7 linked regions of the Homo sapiens genome follow. The protein of the gene in region 6 purifies or fractionates together with the protein of the main gene of each other region. This does not show direct contact. Each region holds a gene or a part of one and is shown on either strand. Other genes may lie near its edges. The genes, in order: PPP1R8, ADISSP, LMTK2, CNST, YLPM1, PPP1R3A and TPRN.

Region 1 (2,197 bases), on a different chromosome or scaffold from region 6:
AAATACATACCATGCTCCTCTCCCATTTCTCATTCTGTGGAAATGAAATCTATGTTTAGGGAATCCTGGAGTACCACAGAAAGGCTGTAGATAACTAGCCAGCTTGATGTTTCATGTAAATAATGTGCAATATGAATCTGTAAATTCATTTTCCAGAGGGGTGCAGAGAGAGGCCCACCTTCTTTTGGCCTTTCTCTTCGGACTCAAAGTAAGCTATTAGGTGGAGGAGATGCATTATTGCAATACCACACAGTTTGCCATGCCTTTATTTTATGAGTGGCAATGGCACAGATAGGAATGTCAGCCCAGATGTGGATTAAATTTAAAGATAAGTATGTTGGCTGGGTGCGGTGGCTCACGCCTGTAATCCCAGCACTTTGGGAGGCCGAGGTGGGCAGATTACAAGGTCAGGAGATCGAGACCATCCTGGCGAACACGGTGAAACCCCGTCGCTACTGAAAATACAAAAAAAAATTAGTTGGGCGTGGTGGTGGGCGCCTATAGTCCCAGCTACTCAGGAGGCTGAGGCAGGAGAATGGCGTGAACCCGGGGGGCAGAGCTTGCAGTGAGCCGAGATCACACCACTGCACTCCAGCCTGGTCGTCAGCGAGACTCCATCTAAATAAAAAAGATTGTATGTTGAAGAACCAAGGGGTAGAAGTTACAGAGATGCTCCGATCGTTCAGCATGTGGAAGAACTATCAGATAGCTAGAACTGTCCAAACAGCAACAAACTTCCCCTTAAGAGTAGTGAGATCCCTGTTAATATTCAGAAGGTGATTAGAAAATGCTGGTTAGAGATGATATAGAAAGTTTTACTTTTTATAAAAAAAAAATCTCTAAAATATATTAGACTAAGTAAGATCTGTCAGAGTTCCTGCTTAGACTTTGTTTAATCCAAAAGGAGTATAGGATTGAGCAGGATGTTTCATGAGCTTTAGTCTAGTATGGAAAAGTAGATGTTTTTCTGTGGGATTCCATAATGCCCCTTGAGCTTTTTTGTTTGTTTGTTATTCCTTTGGAATGTTTTCTTGTCATTAAAGTACAAAATCAACAGGTGTATAGTTTTATGTCAATTTTATTGCAGTATAATTTACATATAATAAAATCTACACATTTACGTATATAGTTTTGGCAAATATATGTGTAACCACCACCATAATCAAGATAGAGAAGATTTCTCTCACTCCAAAAAGTTGCCTCGTAGCCCTTTGCAGCAGCCCACTCCCAGGCCCAGGCAGCCAGTAAATATTTTCTTCACTGTAGATTGGTTTTGCTCTCAGATTAATGTTTAAAAATTGGACACCAGGTCGGGCGTGCTGGGTCACGCCTGTAATCCCAGCACTTTGGGAGGCCGAGGCGGGCTGATCACCTGAGGTCCGGAGTTCAAGACCAGCCTGACCAACATGGAGAAACCCTGTCTCTACTAAAAATACAAAATTAGCCAGGCGTGGTGGCGCATGCCTGTAATCCCAGCTACTCCGGAGGCTGAGGCAGGAGAATGGCTTGAACCCGGGAGGCAGAAGTTGCTGTGAGCTGAGATCGAGCCATTACACTCCAGCCTGGGCAACAAGAGTGAAACTCTGTCTCAAAAAAAAAAAAAAAAAAAAATTGCACACCAAACATGGACATACCACATTTTTTCCCCCTCAAAAAAGGGTAAAATATCTATTGCCATCTTTTATCATTTCCATTTCCTAAAAGGGATTTTTTTAAAAATGTTTTTTATTTTTGAGACAGAGTCTTACTCTGTCACCCAGGCTGCAGTGCAGTGGCACCATCTCAGCTCATTGCAAACTCTGCCTCAAGTGATTCTTGTGCCTCAGCCTCCCGAGTAGCTGTGATTACAGGCACCTGCCACCACGCCTGGCTAATTTTTGTATTTTTAGTAGAGATGGGGTTTTGCCATGTTGGCCAGGCTGGTCTCAAACTCCTGATCTCATGTGTTCCTCCTAAAAGGGCATTTTAATATGAAATAAGAAAGTGAGCTATGTAACTTTAGGATAAATTAAATTGATATGTTTTACTTTATGTAAAACTCACAACACCATCCTTGGCTGATGTAGGATGGTGAAAACTTTGTTATGGAGCAGTGTTTGGGAACCATCGTAGATGACTGGAAAGGTCTCTTCAAACCGTAAGATTTCAACATCATGAAATAGGTTGTCTGGAAAGGAGAACAGGCTAGAAGTTAGGA
Region 2 (3,500 bases), on a different chromosome or scaffold from region 6:
CAAATGTGATGTGGTCATTCATTCAACAAACATAAACCAAACACAGCTCCTCCCTGTCTGGTGCTGCGCTGAGTGCCGGGGACACAGGGTTTGACAAAAACACAGTCACTACCCTTGTAAGGTGAGGAAGAGGGATATCAAATGATCCCAGACATGAGAAAGGGGATTCCAAAAAGAGCTGTAGTCCTGTCCTGGGATTTGCAGGGTGTGCATCCTTAAAAAAGAAATGTTGGGGCTGAGACCCTGTCGAAGGTGTGGCTGGGAGGGACGGGATTGTTCCTGGCTGAAGGGATGACCTGGGCAAAGGCAGGGCGGGGGGACGGTCAGGCAGTAGGTTGGGAGGAAGACAGGGAGGGTGCCCTGCATGGACCAGTTCAGAGTGTTTTGTGAAAAGGGCCTGCAGCCTTTGCTCACCAGCCACTGGTGCAGTTTAACCAGAGCCTTCAGGAAGCATCCTGGGAGATGGGGGGACCTTGAGGACACTGGGCTGTCACTGCCTCCTGGCTGCAGAGGTGTGGCTGGAGCAGCCTCTGCAGGATAGGAGGGCCTCACACTCTTGTGCTTGGCCATTTGTCATATACTCTGAGTTCACAGCTTTGGGGGCAGCTGTAGTCGGGGGGCGGTTACGGCAGGCTGCTCTCCAAGACCAAGTTCCCTGGGGACAAGCTGAGCTTTCCAGGGCTGAGGCAACTGACCCCACAGTGGCCCTGGCCAGAGGTGAATGGGTGTAGCTCCACTTCCTGCACCCTGGGCTGGGGCCTGGAAGCTCACCTCCAAGAGGGGGTTGCTGGCCTGGTCCATTGGCCAAAGGGGGCTCCTGGTGGTACCCAAACTGTGAACACCCTGCCCATGAGGCAGGGCTTGGGCCTGGGTGGACTTTGCCCACATTGAGAAGTGGGGAGCGAGGTGAGGCCACATCTGCTCCCAGAGCAGCTTGGCACCAGAGGGACCTTGAGATCATGCCCTCCACAGGCCCAGCCCTAAACTATGAGGCCACCCTGTAGTTCCTCTTCTGTCCCTGGACTGATGAGCCAGTGTCACTCATCTCTAAGTTGTTCAGTATGTTTCCCTGACAAAATAAGGACATAATTCTTTACATAATACAATTCCATGATCAACTCATTTCTTAGTGTTACCTCATATCCAGGCCATTTACATTTTCCAGATCCCCCAAATGTCTTTTTTTTTTTTTTTTTGAGACGGAGTTTTGCTCCTTTTGCCCAGGCTAGAGTGCAGTGGCGCAATCTCGGCTCACCGCAACCTCCGCCTCCTGGGTTCAAGCGATTCTCCTGCCTCAGCCTCCCGAGTAGCTGGATTACAGGCATGCGCCACCACGCCTGGCTAATTTTGTATTTTTTAGTAGAGACAGGGTTTCTCCATGTTGGCCAGGCTGGTCTTGAACTCCCGACCTCAGGTGATCCGCCCGCCTCAGCCTCCCACAGTGCTGTGATTACAGGCGTGAGCCACCTCACCCGGCCTTTTTTTTTTTTTTTTTTTTGAGACAGAGTCTCGCTCTGTCACCCAGGCTGGAGTGCAGTGGCGGGATCTTGGCTCACTGCAACCTCCGCCTCCCAGGTTCAAGCGATTCTCCTGCCTCAGCCTCCTGAGTAGCTGGGATTACAGGTGCACACCACCATGCCTAGCTGATTTTTGTATTTTTAGTAGAGATGGGGTTTCGCCATGTTGGCCAGGCTGGTCCCAAACTCCTGACCTCAGGTGATCTACCCGCCTTGGCTTCCCAAAGTGCTGGGATTACAGGTGTGAGCCGCAGCGCCCGGCACCCCCCAAAATGTCTTCTTTGATAGGTAGTTCGAAACACCCTCTCCTTTATTTTTCTTCTTGCAGCTGATGTGGTGAAAAAAACAGGTCAGTTGTCCTGAAGATTATCCTTTTTTGGTCTGTTAAGTGTGTGTTGATCTAGAACAAGGGTTGGCAAACTTTTGCTCTGAAGGGCCAAATAATAAATGGTTTAGACTTTGCAGGCCATATGGTCTCTATCATAACTACTTGGAAGTAACTTTGTTTTAGTGCAAAAACAGACAACATGTAAGTGAATGAAGTGTAGTGTTCTATTAGTAAAACTTTATTTGCAAAAATTTATTTGCCAGGCCTGGCGGCTCACGTCTGTAATCCCAGCACTTTGGGAGGCTGAGGTGGGTGGATCGCTTAAGCTCCGGAGTTTGAGACCAGCCTGGGCAACTCTGTCTCTACAAAAATTAGCCGGGCATGGTGGTGCGTGGCTGTGGTCTCAGCTACTTGGCAGGCTGGGGTGGGAGGATTGCTTGAGCCTGGGAGATTACGGTGGCAGTGAGCTGGACTCCAGCCTGGGCTGGACAGAGTGAGACCCTGTCTCAAAAACAAAAACAAAAACACAACAGGCAGCAACCTTACCATCAGCTGTGTAATCAGCTGTAGTTTGCTGCTTTCCTATCTAGAATAATCTCCCTCGTTTTATTTTTCTTCTTTCTTTTTTTTTTTTCTTGAGACAGAGTCTCGCTGTGTCACCCAGGCTGAAGTGCCGTGGCGCGATCTTGGCTCACTGCAACCTCCGCCTTCCGGATTCAAGTGATTCTCCTGCCTCAACCTCCCAACTAGCTGGGACTACAGCTGCCCGCCACCACACCCGGCTAATCTTTGTACTTTTGGTAGAGACTGGGTTTCACTATGTTGGCCAGGCTGGTCTTGAACTCCTTACCTTGTGATCCGTGAAAGTGCTGGGATTACAGGCGTGAGCCACCGTTCCCAGCCTGCTTTCTTTTTCTTCTTGACATTTGAAAACAAAAACAAAAACAAAAAACAGGTCAGTCATCCTGTAGAATATCCTGCCTTCTGGGCTCGTCTCATTGCTTTCTCATGGAGTCATTAAATTTGTTCCCCTCTCCTCTGTGTTTTTAGCAAATGAGAAGTTGAAGTTAGAGGCTGGTTTAGATTCCAGGTTAAACCTTTTTGGCAGGAATCCCTTGTCAGTGATGCTGTGACTTTGGGCTGCCTTACTTCAGGAGGCATCAGTGTGACAGGCTGTCCTGCAGAGAGTAGAGAGATAGACCAGTGTGTGACTGGGAGAAGTCACATACCTCCATTGCAAACTTGTGCCATTCCTCTTAAACACCAGGTCCTCGGCCAGGCATGGTGGCTCACACCTGTAATCCCAACACTTTGGGAGGCCGAAGTGAGCGGATTGCTTGAGGTCAGGAGTTCGAGACCAGCCTGGCCAACATGGTGAAACCCTGTCTCTACTAAAAATACAAAAATTAGCTAGGCGTGGTGGCGGGCGCCTGTAGTCCCAGCTACTCGGGATGCTGAGGTGGGAGAGTCGCTCGAACCCAGGAGGCAGATGTTGCAGTTAGCCGAGATCGTGCCATTGCATCCCAGCCTGGGTGACAAGAGTGAAACTCCGTCTCAGAAAAAAAAAAAAAACAAAAACCATACCAGGTCCTCTGTCAGTGACGCTTGGGCGCCTGTGAGTATCTGCTTCCTGTCAACCTTCCCCTCTGGTTTAG
Region 3 (3,500 bases), about 16 Mb from region 6:
TTTCTAACAAAACAGGAGGATTATATTGAAACAGATGATAAAAAAGTTTTCCCTCTGCGATGGACTGCTCCAGAATTAGTAACCAGCTTTCAAGACAGACTGCTAACTGCAGATCAGACTAAGTATAGTAATATCTGGTACGTATTGGCTTACCGTTTTATTAGTCATTTCTTTGGCAAAGTCCTAACTTCTTCCTCTTTGAGTACTTCCTTAAAGGAAAGTAGTTGTATAAGATGTAGGAACAAAAGAGTATCTGATGGTGTGAAAAAGACAGTTTAAAAGACACAAATAGTAATTATCACAATTGTGGTGATGGAGTTAACGTTTTGAATACTGCCCCTGCTACCCATTTTCCTTTAGAAAAGCAGGAACCAAGTCTGTTTCATATTCTGTGCCTCCCACAGGGCCTGACATGTAATAGATATTTAATATGTATTTATTGAAGTGAAAGAAGAAACTGAAAGGGGTGTGGACTATCATGTTTATACTATGATTTATAGGAGTCAGTTTAATGGGAGCTAAAAAGATGCACCTAAAACTTTGACTAACAATTTCTGTCACAGCCTTCTTAATTTATAGCTATGTTTTATGTGCTGTTGTCCTGCTTTTTTTTTTCTCTCCTTGCTTTCTTTTGGATTGATTTCTTTAAAACAATTTTTTTGCTTTTATTATTTTTTTCATTGATGCATATAATTGGACATATTTATGGGGTACAGTGATATATATATATGTTTTTGTTGTTGTTGTTGTTGTTGTTGTTTTGAGATAGAGTCTCACTGTCGCCCAGGCTGGAGTACAGTGGTGTAGTCTCGGCTCACGGCTCACTGCAGTGTCCACCTCCCTGGTTCAAGTAATTCTTGTGCCTCAGCCTCCCGAGTAATTGGGATTACCAATATGTACTACCACACCATTTTTGTACTTTTAGTAGAGATGGAGTTTTGCCATGGCTGGTCTCGAACTCCTGAACTCAAGTGATCCGCCTGCCTCGTCCTCCCAAAGTACTGGGATTACAGGCGTGAGCCACCGCACCTGGCCCAGTGTAATATTTTGATACCTATATACAGTGTGTGATGATCAAATCAGGGTAACTAGTATCCCCTTCACTCCAGACATGTATCATTTTTTCTTTTTGTTTTTGGGAACATTCAAAAGCCGCTCTTAGAGCTGTTTGAAAATATACAAAAATTTGTTGTTAATTATAGTCACCCTTCAGTGCTTTAGAACACTAGATCTTATTCCTCCTTCCCAGCCGAAATTTTGTATTCGTTAGTCAGCTTCTCACTATTCCTCCTCTCCCTCCCCTTCCCTGCCTCAAGTAATCACTCTTCTACTCTCTACTTCTATGAGATCAACCTTTTTATCTTCCACGAGTGATGAGGTTTTCTTCCTTTTTCTTTCCCCCTTGTGTATCTGCTCTACCTAGTGTATCGTGAGTCTGATACTTCTGTGTTTTTTCATGTTGATGGTTATCCTCCTTTAGCTTCCAGATACAGGACTCCTGGACCATTTCTCTTAAGGCATGTCTCATAATGATGAATTCCTTCAGTTTTTGCTTATCTGGGAAAGACTTTATTTCTCCATTTTTTAAAAAAAGTTATTATTATATATATTTTTTTAGTAGAGACGAGGTCATGCTGTGTTGCCCAGGCTGGTCTTGAACTCCTGGCCCCAAGCAATCCTCATGCCTTAGTCTCCTAGAGTGCTGGGATTATAGTCATGAGCCATCGCGCCCAACCCTCCTTCATTTCCGAAGGATATCTTTGCAGGGCATAGTGTTCTTGGCTGCCAATTTCAGTACTTTGAGTATACCATCCTATTCTCTGCTTCCCTCCTATGTGACTTAATGCTTTTCTCTGGCTGTTTTTAGAATTTTTATCTTTGTCTTTGGCTTTTGACAATTTGACTATAATGTGCCTCTGAAATGACCTTTTGGGGTTGATTGTATTTTAAGGACCTTTGAGCTTCCTGGATCTGGATGTCTGTATCTCTCCCAAGACTTGGGAAGTTTTTAAGCTGTTCTTTCCTTAAATAGCCTTTCTCTGCCTTCTCCTAGCTCTTTTATTTCTGTAACTCCCATAATGTGTGTATTTGTTTGCACTGTAGTCTCCCATAAGCCCTGAAGCCTCCCTTCACTCCTTTTCATTCTTCTGTCTTTTTCCCTCTGACTGGGTGATTTCAAACAACCTTTCTTCAAGTTGAGAGGTTCTTCTGCTTGAGTCTGTTGTTGAAGTTCTGTATTTCTTTTTATTTCATTTATTGAATTCTTCAGCTGGGCTTACTGCCTGTGAGGACCCCAGGCGACCCCAGTGTGAGGACTGTAGTGTCCACGGTGAGCAGTGTGAGGATGTAGGGGTCCACAGTGAGATCCTCTTACTTGCCCTTACCTGGAAGAGAAAGTTGCTCCTGGTTCCTGGCTGCGCCTGCCAGGGATGGGGTGGTGGAGGCCAGGCGTTTCCTTCCGCTCTCGCTGTGGCTGTCCTGAATCTCCTGAGTACCTGTTACTCCTTTGATGGGCTCTGGTGCTCTCCTTTAGTGATTTTTGTCAAAATGTAGTTGCTTCTTTGTTGTTTGGGGCGTGTCGTGGAGGGTTAGCTGGACATCAGAATCACTGGGGAACTTTTTAAAACGTGAGTTTTCTAGGCCACACCTGGATCTACCAACTAAGCATCCTTTAGGGGTGGATCTGACCTAGCAGTGTGTGTGTTCACGGCTTCCCAGAGGACACAGATGAGAGTCACGTTCGGGAACATTGCAGTAAATAGACACAAATGCGGGATGGAGGCAGTGCGTGGTGGGGAGGAAATGCAGAGACCTCGTGGAGGAAATGAGAGGCAGCTCCTCTGACCCAGGAAGCCAGCAGAGGCTGTTTCCATGGGGACAGAGCACCGCAGTGTGAGAGAGGATTGGGCTGGGACTGAGAAGGGCGTTCCTGCTGTGGTGAGGCAGCCCTCAGGGTCTCTCCTGGCACACAGCTGCCAGCGTGATGGGGGATCCCTTCAGAATAGCAGCAAAACCCACGATACTGAGGAGTAACTCAAACCAAACTTGTGGGTCTCACAGAGAGGATATCGTCTTGCCCATGTAAAGATTCCTTTTAGATGGTTTCTGGTGTTTACTAATGTTGTTAATAGGTGTATTTTTCTACCAAAAAAAAAAAATCAGAATTCAGGGTATTTATCTTGTTTCCAGCAATTCTGCCAAATTTTTAGAACATTCTGATGGTCTTTCCAATAATTTATTGAGTACTTAAAAGTTGATAGTCATCTCATCCACATAATTACACCTATTATCTCTGTTTTGTACTTTTTTCATTGGCCAAAACTTCTAGGGTGGTATTCAGTAGCAAATAGGAGGCATGGTCTTCCTCATTTTAACAGAAATGCCTCTTTTTTTGCTATTGTGCTGTTGATTATTGGTTTCAGATTAAAGAACAATCTTGGCTGGTTGTGGTGGCTCACGCCTGTAATCTCAGCACTTTGGAAGGCCAAGGCAGGTGGATC
Region 4 (3,500 bases), on a different chromosome or scaffold from region 6:
ATCTAAACTTGTCTCATACAAATATACAAACTTTATGGGACAGTGGTAGCCACCGCTTGGGGAAGGGAAGAATGAGGAGTGACTGCTAATGGGTACGTGATTTCTTCCTGGAGGATAAAATGTTCTGGAATTAAATTGTACAACTTTGTGAATATACTAAAACCACTAAATTGTACCCTTTAAAAAGGTGAATTTTATGGTATACGAATTACAAGTTTTTTAAAACTACATGGAGATAATCAAATAGTCAGATATTAACAGGTGTTGGTGAAGATGGAGAGAAACTGTAACCCTCATACAGTGCTGGCAGGACTGTAAAATGGTGCAGTTGCTTTGGAAAACTGTTTGGCATAAAGTTACCATATGATCCAGCAATTCCACTCCTAGAGATATATAACGAAGAGAAATGAAAACACATGTCTCTACAAAAACTTGTACAGCAATGTCCATAGAATAGTCAAAAAGTGGAAAGAACCCAAACATCCCTCAGCTGATGTATAAATGAAATACGGTCTATCCATGCAACAGAATATTATCTGACCACAAAAAGGAACAAAGTACTGATATATGCTACAAAATGGGTCAACCATGAAAACATGTTAAATGAAAGAAGCCAGTCAAAGACCTTCTATTGTATGATTCCACTAATATGCAATGTTCAGAGTAGACAAATCTGTAGAAAAAGTAAGTAGATTAATGGCTGCCTCAGGTTAGGATGTCTAAGTGGAAGTAAGAAGTGGGTGCTAATATGTAAGTGGCTGCTTTGTGTGGTGAAGAAAACATACTAAAATTGACTGCTGATGGTTACACATCCCTGTGAGTATACCAAAAATCAGTGAATTATATATTTTAAGTAGGTGAATTGCATGTATATGAATTACATCTTAATAAAACTGTTTAAAAAACACATTAATTTCCATTGTTTTTCTCCCCCCAGGTAAGAATGTGAAAAATAATAATAAATAAGTAATGGTCATTAGTTTTTAGGATAATATTTACCTAAAGCTTTGCCATTTTAACTACAGTGAAAAATTTTTTCTTTTTCTTTTTTTTTTTTTGAGACAGGATCTCACTCTGTCTCCAAGTTGGGGTGCAGTGGTGCAACCATGCAGCTCACTGCTGCTGTGATCCTCCCACCTCAGCCTCCCAAGTAGCTGGGACTACAGGCACGTGCCACCATGCCCAGCTAATTATTTTACTTTTTGTAGAGATGAGGTCTCCCTGTGTTGCCCAGGCTGGTCACAAACTCCTTGGCTCAAGCAATCCTCCACCTTGGCTTCTTAAAGTGCTACAATTATAGGCATGAGCCAGTGCACCCGCCCTATAATGAAAACTTGTTGTAACACAGCTTGAAATCCTGCTTAGTTAAGCATATCAAGGGGATTCAATTCTCTTAAGGGGGAAAAAAAAAAGCTCATTATATGATGACAACTGGACTTCCCTGAGGCTAAGATCAAGGTTTTACCCATTGACACAAATACTGCCTCCAGCAAACCCATAAACAGTGACATGTCTCCTAATGACATGACTATTAGGAATGACATGACTATTAGTGACAAGAGTCCTGCACTATCATTTTTTTTCCAGTACTAGCCTTTGGACAGTAGTAATTGAAAAATGACTACAAATTAAACTAGACAAGGGAGCATAGAGTGAATAAATTTACTTTATTTTACATGTTCTTTTTTTTGGTCTTTTTTTTCTTTATTTTTATATTTTACATTTTCTAAAAAGTGTTACAAGAACATCTACCTACAAAAAACTGCATTTCTGGTTTGCAACTGAATATCATGTTTTTTATATGTCATTTCACATTTGAGAAGCTATTCAATTATTAGAAAAGTACACGTCTGAAAAATTTGAAACTTTATTTACTTAGGAGCTAAGAATTTAACCGAAAAATTAGAGTAAACACATCCTTGTCTAAACTCCTATGCATAAACTCTTTGCATTATTTTTGACATGGAGGATGGAAGCAAGATGGGAAACAAATGTAGGGGGCTTTTGCAGTACTCCAGCTGAAGATGCTGCTGAACTGTGGCAGTGAAGATGGAGAGAAACAGACTGACTTGAGAGATCACAGGGAGATAACATTACTCAGACCGGGTGATGGATACGTACTGAGAGACGACAGGCTGAAGCAAGTTCTTAGGGTGGGGTCCCAGCAACTAAACTCTGAGGGAAGCTTTCCAGGCAATACTAAAGCTTCTTCCCATTCTAGGTCTCTTCCACATCTAGAAAGGATTAATTCCACACCCAAAAGAATCCTATTCAGTTTAAAATTAAGGGTCCCCCATCTCAAACACCTGTGCCCTGCTAACTCACCCCAGGACACTCAGTCCCGCCTCGTCCATGGCCAGCCCGGGCAGACAGGAGTATCCTTTCTTTTAATTTATCAACAAAACTTAAAAGACAAACAAAAATGTATCTGTAAAATATAAAAACTCTATAGATGCACTAGAGGTGAATCACCACATTTTATTCAAGTATAGAGTATACCATCTCTACTATGAAATCTAAGAAACTCACAGCTTAAAAAGGAATTTCATAGATTTAGGTAGATGAAGATCATCATTATACAGACGACAACAACAAGGTAGAGACTGCTTCAGTCTCACCAAGTGACCTGGAATCATAAGATTTGTACTTGGGTTTTATAACTCCTCATTCTGTTTTCTTACTCTTTTGAGACAAGGTCTGGCACTATCGCCTAGACTGGAGTGCAGTGGCAGGATCTTGGCTCACTGCAACCTCCGCCTCCCAGGCTCAAACCATTCTCTCACCTCAGCCTCCCAAGTAGCTGGGACTACAGGTGCATGCCACCAGGCCCAGCTAATTTTTGTATTTTTTTAGAGATGGGGTTTCACCATGTTGGCCAGGCTGGTCTCGAACTCCTGAGCGCAAGTGATCTGCCCTGTCAGCCTCCCAAAGTGCTGGGATTACAGGTGTGAGCCACCACGCCTGGCCTTTCTTACTCTCTTAAACTCACTTTATATAAGATATAGAAAATAATGTTTAAAGTAAGCTGTATAAAGACTATCCCTAGATTTTATAAATCATATGTTTCAAATGCATTAGGGAATAGTAATTCTAAACATATCTTCTCACAGTATTATAAATACTAAATAACTTTAAATTATAAGCTGGGCCCACTGGTGTATACCTGTAGTCCCAGGTACTCAAGAAGCTGAGATAAAAGGATCACTTGAACCCAGGAGTTTGAAACTAACCTGGGCAAGGTAGCATGATCCTGTCTCTAAAATAAATATAATAATAATATAATCACACCTAAGAAAAGTGGAATAAAGACCATGGAAGGGAGGAGTAAAAGGACTCACAATCTTAAAGCTATGACTGACTCATAGGTATGCAACTAAGTATCAGTTCTTAAAGACATCACAAGATGCCTGTAATCCCAACACTTTGGGAGGCCTAGGCAGGAGGATCGCTTGAGGCCAGAAATTCAAGATCAGCCTGGGCAACAGTGCGAGATTCTTTAT
Region 5 (3,500 bases), on a different chromosome or scaffold from region 6:
GGAGTTCAAGGCCAGCCTGGGCAACAAAGTGAGACACCCCCCCCCCCGCCCCCCGCCCACAAAAAGTTTAAAAAACTAGCCAGGTGGCCGGGCGCAGTGGCTCACGCCTGTAATCCCAGCACTTTGGGAGGCCTAGGCGGGCAGATCACGAGGTCAGAAGATCAAGACCATCCTGGCTAACATGGTGAAACCCCATCTCTACTAAAAATACAAAAAATTAGCCGGGCGTGGTGGTGGGCGCCTGTAGTCCCAACTTCTCAGGAAGCTGAGGCAGGAGAATGGTGTGAACCCGGGAGGCGGAGCTTGCAGTGAGCCGAGATCGCGCCACTGCACTCCAGCCTGGGCGACAGAGTGAGACTCCGACTCAAAAAAAAAAAAAACCTAGCCAGGCATGGTGTTGCATGCCTGTAGTGCCGGCTACTTGCGGGTGGCTGAGGTGGGAGGATTGTTTAAGCCCAGGAGTTCTCGTGCCACTGCACTCTAGCCTGGGCAACAGAGTGAGACCTAAAAAAAAAAAAAATGAGTAGGCCAGGTGCAGTGGCTGATGCCTGTAATCTCAGCACTTTGGGAGGCCAAGGCAGGCGGATCACTTGAAGTCAGGAGTTCAAGACCAGCCTGGCCAACATGGTGAAATTCTGTCTCTACTACAAATACAAAAAATTAGCTGGGTGTGGTGGTGCACGCTTTTAATCTCAGCTACTTGGGAGGCTGAGGTGGGAGGATCACTTGAACCCAGGAGGCAGAGGTTGCAGTGAGCCAAGATTGCCCCACTGCTCTCTAGCCTGGGCGACAGAGTGGGACTCCATCTCAGTTAAAAAAAAAGAAAAAGAGTAGAAATTAACCAGAAGTTAGAATTCAAAGAATTAAGTTCAATAAGGCTCACTGAAAGCTCAGGGTGAGGATGGTAGGTATGAACTAGATCAGGGAAGGCCTGTAAGGACTTCATTCTAAGGGCAGTTGGAAGCCATTGAAGGATTTTACATAGGTGAATGTGACAGATTGGCATTTTTGAAAGCTCACTCTGCTTGCAGTGTGGAGAGCAGAATTAAAAGGAGCAAGAGTGATTTAGAGAGAATAGTTATTGAAGTAATCCAGGCAAGAGATAATAGTGGTTTAGACTTTGATGGTATTAGTTGAGATGGAGAGAAGTGGGAAGAGTGGAGAAATATTTAGCTGCTAGAATTCACTTTGAGGTTGAGTAGTTATGGAGAGGGAGGCATCAAGAATGATTCTTAGGTTTCTGGGCTGGGCCGTAGGGTGGATGGTGGTCAAATTTACTAAAACAGAAAAACCTAAAGGAGGAGGAGGAAGAACATTTCTGGGGGTGAGGAGAAAATCATGAGTTAGGTTTCAGACATACTGAGTTTGGGGTTCTTGAGACATAGATTCCAAATGGAGATGTCCACTTGGAAGTTAGATATAGCTCTGGAGTCTAGATGTAAGATCTGGGAGACATAGATTTATAAGTCATCAGCATAAAAATGGTATTTGAAGACACAGAAATAGATGAAGCCTCTCAAGGAATGTGTGTAGAGTAAGAACTGAGGTTAAAGGACATTAAGCCTAGCTCCACAAATAGCAGTATCTAAGGGAACCAATGAAAGAATGGCCAAATAGGTATTCATATTAGGTTGGTGCAAAAGTAATTGCAGTTTTTGCTATTACTTTTAATGGCAAAACCACAGTTACTTTGGCACCAGTGTGATAGGTGGAAAATCAAGATAGTGGATAGTGCGTTGCCATGAACGTCAAGGAACAGACTCTAGGAGGAGGGAGTCGTCAGCTGTGTGAAGTACTGCTGAGACGTCAAGCAAGATAAAGACTGCGAGTTATCTTTTGCACCTACTGACATGTAGATTATTGTTGACCTTGGCAGGAGCAGTTTCATAGTGACTGAAGCCATATTGCATTGATTTGAGGAGTGATGGAAGGTGAGGAAATGGGGATGGTGAGTACAGACAACTCTTTCAAGAAGTTTGACTGAAGGAGAGAGAGAATGAGGGAAGGAGCTGGAGGAATAGATGAAGTAAATGAGCATTTAAAATAAAAATAGGTGGGGACTAAGCTTATCTGGTGACCCTGATTCTTACAGTAGAATGTGAATCTCAAAAATATTTAAGCCTATTTTAAATAAATTTCTAAAATGGAAACCCAATTCATTATTTTACCAGGTGTCCTCCCTGCCCCCTGCTTTAGAATATAAGACATAGAACATTGTCTTATAGGCATTTATGATAACCTGGATAGGGAAGGTAATCTTCTAAAATTAATCTTTAAAACATTACACACAAACACTCACCTCCTTTATAGTTCTCCACTTGGAAAATCATTTAGTATCTAGTTCATTACTAGCAGCAGTGGTCAGTAAGTGCTTCCTGAGTAAATTAAAATCAACATCTTTCTTTTTTTTTTTTTTTTCTCAGAGAGATGGGATCTTGCCATGTTGCCCAGGCTGGTCTGAATTCCTGGGCTCAAGCGATATTCGTGCCTCGGCAGCATCTTTCTTAATAACAGTATTTGTGACAAATAGTTCTATATTCTTAATTTTTTTTTTTTTTTTGAGATGGAGTCTCGCTCTCACCCAGGCTGAAGTGCAGTGGCGCGAGGATCTGGGCTCACTGCAACCTCCGCCTCCCAGGTTCAAGCGATTCTCCTGCCTCAGCCTCCCGAGTAGCTGGGATTACAGGCATGTGCCACCACACCCAGCTAAGTTTTGTATTTTTAGTAGAGACAGGGTTTCACCATGTTGGTCAGGCTGGTCTCGAACTCCTCACCTTGTGATCCGCCCGCCTTGGCCTCCCAAAGTGCTGGGATTACAGATGTGAGCCACCGCACCCAGCCAATAGTTCTACATTCTTTATGTTTGAAATCCCTTCATTCAATCTCGTTTTAAATGTGACCTATATTATGATTTCCCTCTACCTATAAAACAACATCCCATATGAAATGGAGTTATCTGATATGATGGGACATTCAGAAGAGCTGGCATCATTAGCAAGTTCAGGCATTTTTTTTCTTTCTAAAATAGGGATGATCACACTTCTCTTAGGGTCAGTAAGGACATTTGTGAGTGATATCATTATTATTTATTTGCAGAGCTTCAAAAATGTGCTGAAGCCTACCATAGGATTGAATTAGATCTGGTTACTACTTATAGGGTTCATATTAAATAGAAATTGACCTACAAGGCGGCCGGGCACGGTGGCTCACGCCTGTAATCCCAGCACTTTGGGAGGCTGAGGTGGGCGGATCACAAGGTCAGGAGATCGAGACCATCCTGGCTAACATGGTGAAACCCCGTCTCTACTAAAAAATATAAAAAATTAGCCGGGCGTGGTGGCGGGCGCCTGTAGTCCCAACTACTCAGGAGGCTGAGGCAGGAGAATGGCGTGAACTCGGGAGGCGGAGCTTGCAGTGAGCCGAGATCGCGCCACTGCGCTCCAGCCTGGGCGACAGAGCGAGACTCCATCTCAAGAAAAAAAAAAGAGAAATTGACCTAC
Region 6 (3,500 bases):
AGAACAGCATGTGCCATAATAGAATATTTATACAGCTTTTCCATGATATAATTTATATGCAATGGGGTTTCAAATATTCCTAAAACTCACACAAGAGAGCATTATCAAATTTCTAAATGAATATTGCAGTTGGATTTTATTGTGAAGAGTTTGGTTAGAGAAAAATAGCACACCTTATCGGTGTTATTTTACAAAATGTGTACTTGACTAAAATAAAAATGAACTAATACTTATTTGATCAAAAATTATAGCTACTAAAATCTCTTCTCTCCAAATAGTTACAGAATCTAAATGGGTCATTTCTGAGCATTTCTACACTTCCTATGTAGCTTAATTTGGAGGTTATTTCTTTCAGAAGGTAAAAACAGAATATATATATGTATATATATGTATGTGTATATATATGTATATGTATATATGTATGTATATGTATGTATATATGTATATGTATATATGTATATACATATACATACATATATATATATGATTTTTTCTTTATACCTGCAAATAGATTAGTAATAGTATGTAATATCAGTCATAGCTAAAATGAAAATCAGGCTGCCCTAGTGTAGAGAATAACAGCTAACTTCAATTCTTCTTAATAAAAAAGTTAATTTGCTATCAGGGTGCCTGAGATTGTATCTTCTGAAAGTGTCAATAATCCCTTCTAATAAGTATGGAATGAATGAATGTGGAAATACATTTAGGTAGGATTTCTGTTAAGTCAATCACCCACCCAGGCATTATGTTTTCTCTATGGAGATTTTTCTCATGTTAAGAGTTTGCAAATCTCCACATTGGTGTGGGTTGTCTATTTTCTTTTGATGCCTGATAGTCTGTACACTTTGGACAGAAAGAAATATGTAGAGAGAAGGGGAGGCAGAGCTTGTAACTCATAGGCATGTGATTGAGAGTGACCCAAAGATATTTAATTGCACCGAAAGGCATGCATCATGAGATACTTAAGTATCACCACATATGCTAGCAAACTAAGCAGATTCCTGATATATCTGATGGGTTTTATTTTAAAATCAATGACAAAAATGACATTGATATAAATCACATTAAATGTACATAGACAAATAAGCTAAAATGGCATGCAAAACAATATAACCTCAAAGTTAGGATTTTAGGCTTCAAAGTTAAAGATATCTGAGTTTGAATCCAAGCTCTCCTACATGCTAGCAATATGAACTTGGGCAAGTTAAGCTTGTTTTTCTGGTATGTTAATTGAGAACAACTACAGCTCTATCTCATAGGGGTTGAGATTTCGGTGAAGTAATACATATAAACTTTTAGCACAGTGTCTGGAACATAATAAGTTATCAGTAAATGTTAACTGCTGTAAAAAGACAATGGTAACTTCAGCTTTAGGTGTATCTGAAAAACTGCAAGGCTCAAGCTGCACCAAAGTTCTTCTCCTCTTTCATTTCAGGGCTTCTAAATTTTCAGCTTTGGAGAGCCATTCCTTTGTCTCTTGCAAGATTTTAATCAACAAGGAAGACTAACTGAACTGTAAATTTTCTTGAGAAATGTGTCACTTTATATATGAATTATCTTAAAGCTGGAAGAGAACTTAGGAATGTTAAAATTTCCACATTTAATAGATGAAAAAATGAAGAACTAGACCAAAAGGGATAAAAAGGCATTCATTTAGGATTGAACAGACATGCATATTAATTTCAGTAAAGTTTACACTTAGTAGCTATGTGGCTGTGGGCATATTACTTCAGAGCTCAAAGCCTCAGTTTATTCACCTGTCAAATAAGGGTCATGATGTCTAGTGTCACATTGATTAAAATAAGTTTATATACTTAAAGCTTTTAATATAGCATGTTAGACACACATGAGGATATCATCAAAAGCCCTTCATCACAATTGTCCCTTTTATTATCAAATCTTGTTCAGCTAATGTCCTGACTCTTGAACTTGCATTATTTCTCCATACATCATAGGTTTCCTTGTTTCAGGCTCCAAAACTTATTCAACAAATGTTTACTAAAGAACTGTATGTCAGGTTCTGAGTTGTTAGGCAGCAGTATCGATAACTGAGAAATGTGGCTGGAGACAGGCGCCTGTGAAGACAAGAAGAGGCCCCAAGGGAAAAGGCCTTGAAAAGCAGAGAGAAATGAAGGGAAGAGAGAAAACACCAAAACCAAGTTCAGATTCTCTGGGTATACAGTAGAAGCCATAGATAAAAAATGAAATAAGAATTATTTCCACTTGAGGTTTTCTAGAATATGTGACCTAGAGCTGACACTGTGTACTTACTGGCCTGGGGGGTGGTCTCCCTTCTCAGCATCTTGGCTTTTTTTCCCCACTGCCTGCTAAATGTATGTTCCTAATGGCTGGGTACACCGGTTGAGTTCATCTGGTTTTGTATTTTATTAAGTGAAACCAATTTATTATTTTAAGTAAAGAAACTGCATGATATAGGTGTTTGATGGTATTTATAACTTGGCCAGGTGAATGCAAATAAAGTCCTAAATGACTTTAATGCCAAAGGAGAAAATTGATTAGTCCTCAATTTTTGTACTGTAGGAAAAAAACCAGGTACGTTCAGGAACAGGAAAGAGAGAACTCCTTTCTAAAACATAATTTTAAGAATACAGAGGGTTTATCTTTCAGGGTGGTAAAATTGTGAAAATGAGGCCAAGAAAAGCATTGGGAAATGGGGTCTAAGATATGGCTACATTGTGTGTTTCAGTCAGAGCTGTTGGATTGTGAGACTTCCTTAATTTACGCATACAGTATAATCTGGGGTCCTGGAAATAGTCCAAAGAGGTGTAAATAGCCCCACGAGGCCTTTGGGACCTCACGTATGCCATAACTAACTCGTTTTGAGTCCACACTAATTGTGGAAGCTGGGTCTGTTTAAGGAGGGACCTCTGGCAAGGCCACGTGGAAACATAAAACACAGCTGTGCAGGGCCCATCAGGAGGGTGTTTGAAAGCAGCCAGCTGGTTGACAGCGAGGTGCCAACTGGCTTCAAGTTTCCTTGGAGGTCCACCAAGGCTTCATGGTTTCCTGGTTTTGTGGAAATCCATACCCCATCCTAGACTTTCCCTAGAGTGATTTTGAAACTTTTCTGAGAGAAGAGGAACAAAAGGGTATCCTCCTTCAGGGTGTCTCTCATGCTGTGGCTGAAAGGAGTCACTATGAATGCCATGCCTCAAATGGATCCTCTGGGATCTCTGAGAGCCTATCCCTCCCCACCTGAAGCCCATCTGCAGCCTGTAAAAATAAAGCAGAGCCCACTATTTCTGAGCCAAAAATGCTCCTGGCAAAAAAAGAAAAGAAAAGAAAAAAGGAAGAAGAAAAAGATGGCACCGTTATGAAGTGGGTCAACTTAGTTTTTCACCTTCCTCCACTTCTGCTAACTGTGACTCTCATCCCTATTCCAGGTTTTTACCCCTACCCCTCAACAGGAAATAATGCAGGGGAAAAGACCTCAAGGGCAGATATCTGAAGTGGATCCGATTGCCCAGGGCCCTATCAAA
Region 7 (3,311 bases), on a different chromosome or scaffold from region 6:
AGCAGCAAATGGGGTTTCCAGTCGCCCTGGATATGTGGAGCTAACCCAGATGACCCCGAAGCCCTCCAGGCCCAGCCCCCACGGCTGAGAACACAGAAGGGCTGGCTGCCAGGGCCGCGGGATTAGTGCCCTCACTCGTGCACATGACCGGTCCCAGCAGGGGGGCCGCGGGGGCTGGGTGCACATGGGCCCTGAGCCTGGTACAGCCTGGCCAGGCGGTGCGGGGCGGGGGGTGGACAGGCAGCCCCTGTCTGCCCTCAGCTGGGGCCCGGGGCTCTGGTCACGTCCTGCCTCCCCAGGTCTCCTCAGCTGGGCTGGTGCCTGCTGACTCGCACAGCCCTCCCCTCCCACTGTGGGGACAGGACACCCCGTGACTCATACGGTGGGCAGCCTGAAGACCCCGAGACGCAGGATGGGCAGAGGGTGTGGCCAGGGTCTGGGACCGCACGCACCTGGCCGCAGCCTATCAGGGACTTTGCCTGGCACAGCCAACAGAGCAGGCAGGTGGGTCCCAGCTCAGCCCAGCCTCCCAGCAGAGCCTCCCGGCTTCTCAGGACCCTTCTGTTCTCGCTCCACCCACCCTGCCTGTGCACACCTAGCTTTGGTTACCAAAGGGCCTGGCCTCCACCTGGGACAAAGGGCCAAGCAGCCAGCCCCAACCTGCCCAGATGGAGGTGTGAGCTGAGCCCAGCCCCGCCTCTCCCTCCTCCCTGCACACAGCTACCTGCCTCCCATCCCCCACGCAGCCCCAGCCAAGGCTCCCACGGGTGGCCGGACCCTAGACCAGGCTGCACGAGTGCAATGCCCAGAGCAGGCTCCCGGGAAGCTGGGTGCTCCCTGAGTCAAGTGTGGCCCCAGCGCCAGGCACGGCCTCCACCCATGAGAAAGCTGAGGGAGGAGCGTCCAGGCCGCTCCTGGGGTTCCCGGCTTCAGAAGGACCACCTAGGCGGCACCTATGGGAAGAGCTGGCGGAGAGACGAGAAGGAAAGGAAAACTGACAAGAAGGGACTCAGCCAACAACAGTGAGAGCCTCTGGCCACCCAGGATCTGCCTGCACAGGGGTAGAGGCAGGGAGGAGCCCAGCCTGGGGCTTGGTGCTGGCCAGGAGGTGGTGTCAGTAGGAAGGGCAGATGTCAGGGTGGCTCTTGGGTCTAAGGATCAGAGAGCGAGGCCTTGGGAGTGGAGGCGGAAGTTGCACAGCAGGTGAGGGCGGACGGCCCTGGGTGTCCAGGACTGAGCCCTGGGGACACTGACACGCTCCAGCTGGGCAGAGAGCCAAGAGGGGAGGAGGGGAGTAGGGCAGAGGGGACGGGAAGGGGCCGCCAGACAGGTAGGAGCCAGGCCAGGTGGTGCTCCACGAAGAGGAAAAGCTACAGCGCCGAGTCTCAAGGGAGGCAGGTGTGAGGATGAGAATGGGTGTCCCACCCTCCAGGAAAGCAGCCCGGGCGTGGCTGCAGCACACAGCAGTCTGCTCCAAGCTCAGCCCTGCAAGACGGGGCACCTGCCGCTTCTGCCAATGGATAACTTAAGTGGGCCTGTGCCTGCCAGGCAGGCCCCCACCCCGGCACACAGGCCAGCAGCTCCCCACTGCCCAGAGCAGGGCTGCACCCCTCGGAGGCGGGCAAGGGTATCATACCCTGTGCAGGCACAGCCAGCCCTGGGGCAGGCCCCTCACCGACTCCCACCACCCAGACAACTCCACTGAAGAGCTGCCCTTCACCTGTACCCCAGGAAAAGCAGCAGCACCGCCAGCCGCTGAGGTGCACAGTGAGCCGTTGGCCCACAGTCAGGTCCTGCTAGACTCCGGGCCCTGCAATCCCTGCACTCCACCCCCACGCCCGGGGGTCACAGCCAGTGGTCCCAACCAAAGGCTGGGGTCAGCACGGTGGCTCACGCCTGTAATCCCAGCACTTTGGGAGGCTAAGGCAGGCGGATCATCTGAGGTCAGGAGTTCGAGACCAACCTGGCCAATATGGTAAAACCTCGTCTCTACTAAAAATACGATAATTAGCTGGGCATGGTGGCAGGCGCCTGTAATCCCAGCTACTTGAGAGGCTGAGGCAGGAGAATCGCTTGAACCCTGGGAGATGAAGTTTGCCCTGAGCCGGGATCCTGCCACTACCCTCCAGCCTGGGCGACAGAGCAAGACTCTGTCTCAAAAAACAAAAAATAAAAAAAGGCTGGCCAGGGTGGTCAGACAAGGCCAGGCACAGGACCCGCAGGGGCACCTCGCACCCCCACCAGTGAGTGCTCCTGGCCCAGGGGCCACAGAGTACATGGGACAGCCCTGCCCCACAGCCCACCGTGCCGAGGCCAGCAAGCCATTCTGAAAGGCAGGGCAGCCCCACGCCTCTGTCCCCTCCTGATGGACATTCTGGCTCTTCCCAGGCAGGGCAGCTGGCCTGTACCCAGGCGGGAAGTCACAGCCAGCAGGTCATGCTGCTCTGGCAGGGCCCTGCCCGGGCCACCTGGCCATGCCAGGTATCGTCCATCTGGACCCCCACCCCTTCAGGCTGGCCCGAGCTCCTCCCTCCTGCTGGTCCAGGGCCTGTTTCCCAGGCTCAGCCTCTCCCCCACTGCATCTTCCTGCTCCTGTTGGCCCTCCGGCCCCCACCCTGCCCTTCTGACCCTAACCCAGCCGCAAATGACCCCCACAGTTCTGTCCCTTCTTTGCTTTTTTCTTTTTGAGACAGAGTCTCACTCTGTCGCCCAGGCTGGAGTGCAATGGCGCGATCTCGGCTCACTGCAAGCTCCGCCTCCCGGGTTCAAGCAATTCTCCTGCCTCAGTCTCCTGAATAGCTGGGATTATAGGCGCCCGCCACCACGCCCAGCTAATTTTTTTATATCTTCTTAGTAGAGACGGGGTTTCACCACCTTGGCAAGGCTTGTCTTGAACTCCTGACCTCGTGATCCACCCGCCTCGGCCTCCCAAAGTGCTGGGATTACAAGGTGTGAGCCACCGCGCCCAGCCCAGTTCTGTCCCTTCTGAGGGCAAGATGGCCAGACTCTAGGCAGTGGCCTCAAGTCCCAGGAAGAAGCCAGGCTCCCAGGGATGGCCACACAGGTTAAGGGGAGGGGTTCTAGAAACAGAAACCTGAACTCCGTACTCGCCCCACAAGCCCCATGACCCCGTCTGACTCCCAAGCTGAGGCGCAGTTTCTCTCTACAAAGGGGGAGCTGTCCCCACTGCCACCTCTGGGGCAAGCCCAGGAGGTGCCCACCTCACACAGCAGCCAGGGCCAAAGGTACAGACGCAGGGGAGGGAGAGGCAGACAGGAGCTGGAGGAGAGAGGCTGTGGCTATCAGACTGA

What was found.
Region 1: the proteins of PPP1R3A (region 6) and PPP1R8 purify together in Homo sapiens (affinity purification with mass spectrometry, with the first as the bait; one large-scale study listed by BioGRID). This does not show direct contact.
Region 2: the proteins of PPP1R3A (region 6) and ADISSP purify together in Homo sapiens (affinity purification with mass spectrometry, with the first as the bait; one large-scale study listed by BioGRID). This does not show direct contact.
Region 3: the proteins of PPP1R3A (region 6) and LMTK2 purify together in Homo sapiens (affinity purification with mass spectrometry, with the first as the bait; one large-scale study listed by BioGRID). This does not show direct contact.
Region 4: the proteins of PPP1R3A (region 6) and CNST purify together in Homo sapiens (affinity purification with mass spectrometry, with the first as the bait; one large-scale study listed by BioGRID). This does not show direct contact.
Region 5: the proteins of PPP1R3A (region 6) and YLPM1 purify together in Homo sapiens (affinity purification with mass spectrometry, with the first as the bait; one large-scale study listed by BioGRID). This does not show direct contact.
Region 7: the proteins of PPP1R3A (region 6) and TPRN purify together in Homo sapiens (affinity purification with mass spectrometry, with the first as the bait; one large-scale study listed by BioGRID). This does not show direct contact.

Annotation. Positions count from the first base shown.
Region 1 is NC_000001.11:27,847,782-27,849,978, forward strand, and holds part of PPP1R8 (nuclear inhibitor of protein phosphatase 1), read left to right. Parts: intron 1-2,197. UniProt on the Homo sapiens protein: Inhibitor subunit of the major nuclear protein phosphatase-1 (PP-1). It has RNA-binding activity but does not cleave RNA and may target PP-1 to RNA-associated substrates. May also be involved in pre-mRNA splicing.
Region 2 is NC_000020.11:3,761,254-3,764,753, reverse strand, and holds part of ADISSP (adipose-secreted signaling protein), read left to right. Parts: intron 1-3,500. UniProt on the Homo sapiens protein: Adipocyte-secreted protein (adipokine) that acts as a key regulator for white adipose tissue (WAT) thermogenesis and glucose homeostasis at least in part through activation of protein kinase A (PKA).
Region 3 is NC_000007.14:98,186,862-98,190,361, forward strand, and holds part of LMTK2 (serine/threonine-protein kinase LMTK2 precursor), read left to right. Parts: intron 1-15; coding exon 16-137; intron 138-3,500. UniProt on the Homo sapiens protein: Phosphorylates PPP1C, phosphorylase b and CFTR.
Region 4 is NC_000001.11:246,593,956-246,597,455, reverse strand, and holds part of CNST (consortin), read right to left. Parts: intron 1-3,500. UniProt on the Homo sapiens protein: Required for targeting of connexins to the plasma membrane.
Region 5 is NC_000014.9:74,769,816-74,773,315, forward strand, and holds part of YLPM1 (YLP motif-containing protein 1), read left to right. Parts: intron 1-1,876; exon of another isoform or gene 1,877-1,931; intron 1,932-3,500. UniProt on the Homo sapiens protein: Plays a role in the reduction of telomerase activity during differentiation of embryonic stem cells by binding to the core promoter of TERT and controlling its down-regulation.
Region 6 is NC_000007.14:113,912,510-113,916,009, reverse strand, and holds part of PPP1R3A (protein phosphatase 1 regulatory subunit 3A), read left to right. Parts: intron 1-3,500. UniProt on the Homo sapiens protein: Seems to act as a glycogen-targeting subunit for PP1. PP1 is essential for cell division, and participates in the regulation of glycogen metabolism, muscle contractility and protein synthesis.
Region 7 is NC_000009.12:137,194,431-137,197,741, forward strand, and holds part of TPRN (taperin), read right to left. Parts: intron 1-3,311. UniProt on the Homo sapiens protein: Essential for hearing. Required for maintenance of stereocilia on both inner and outer hair cells. Necessary for the integrity of the stereociliary rootlet.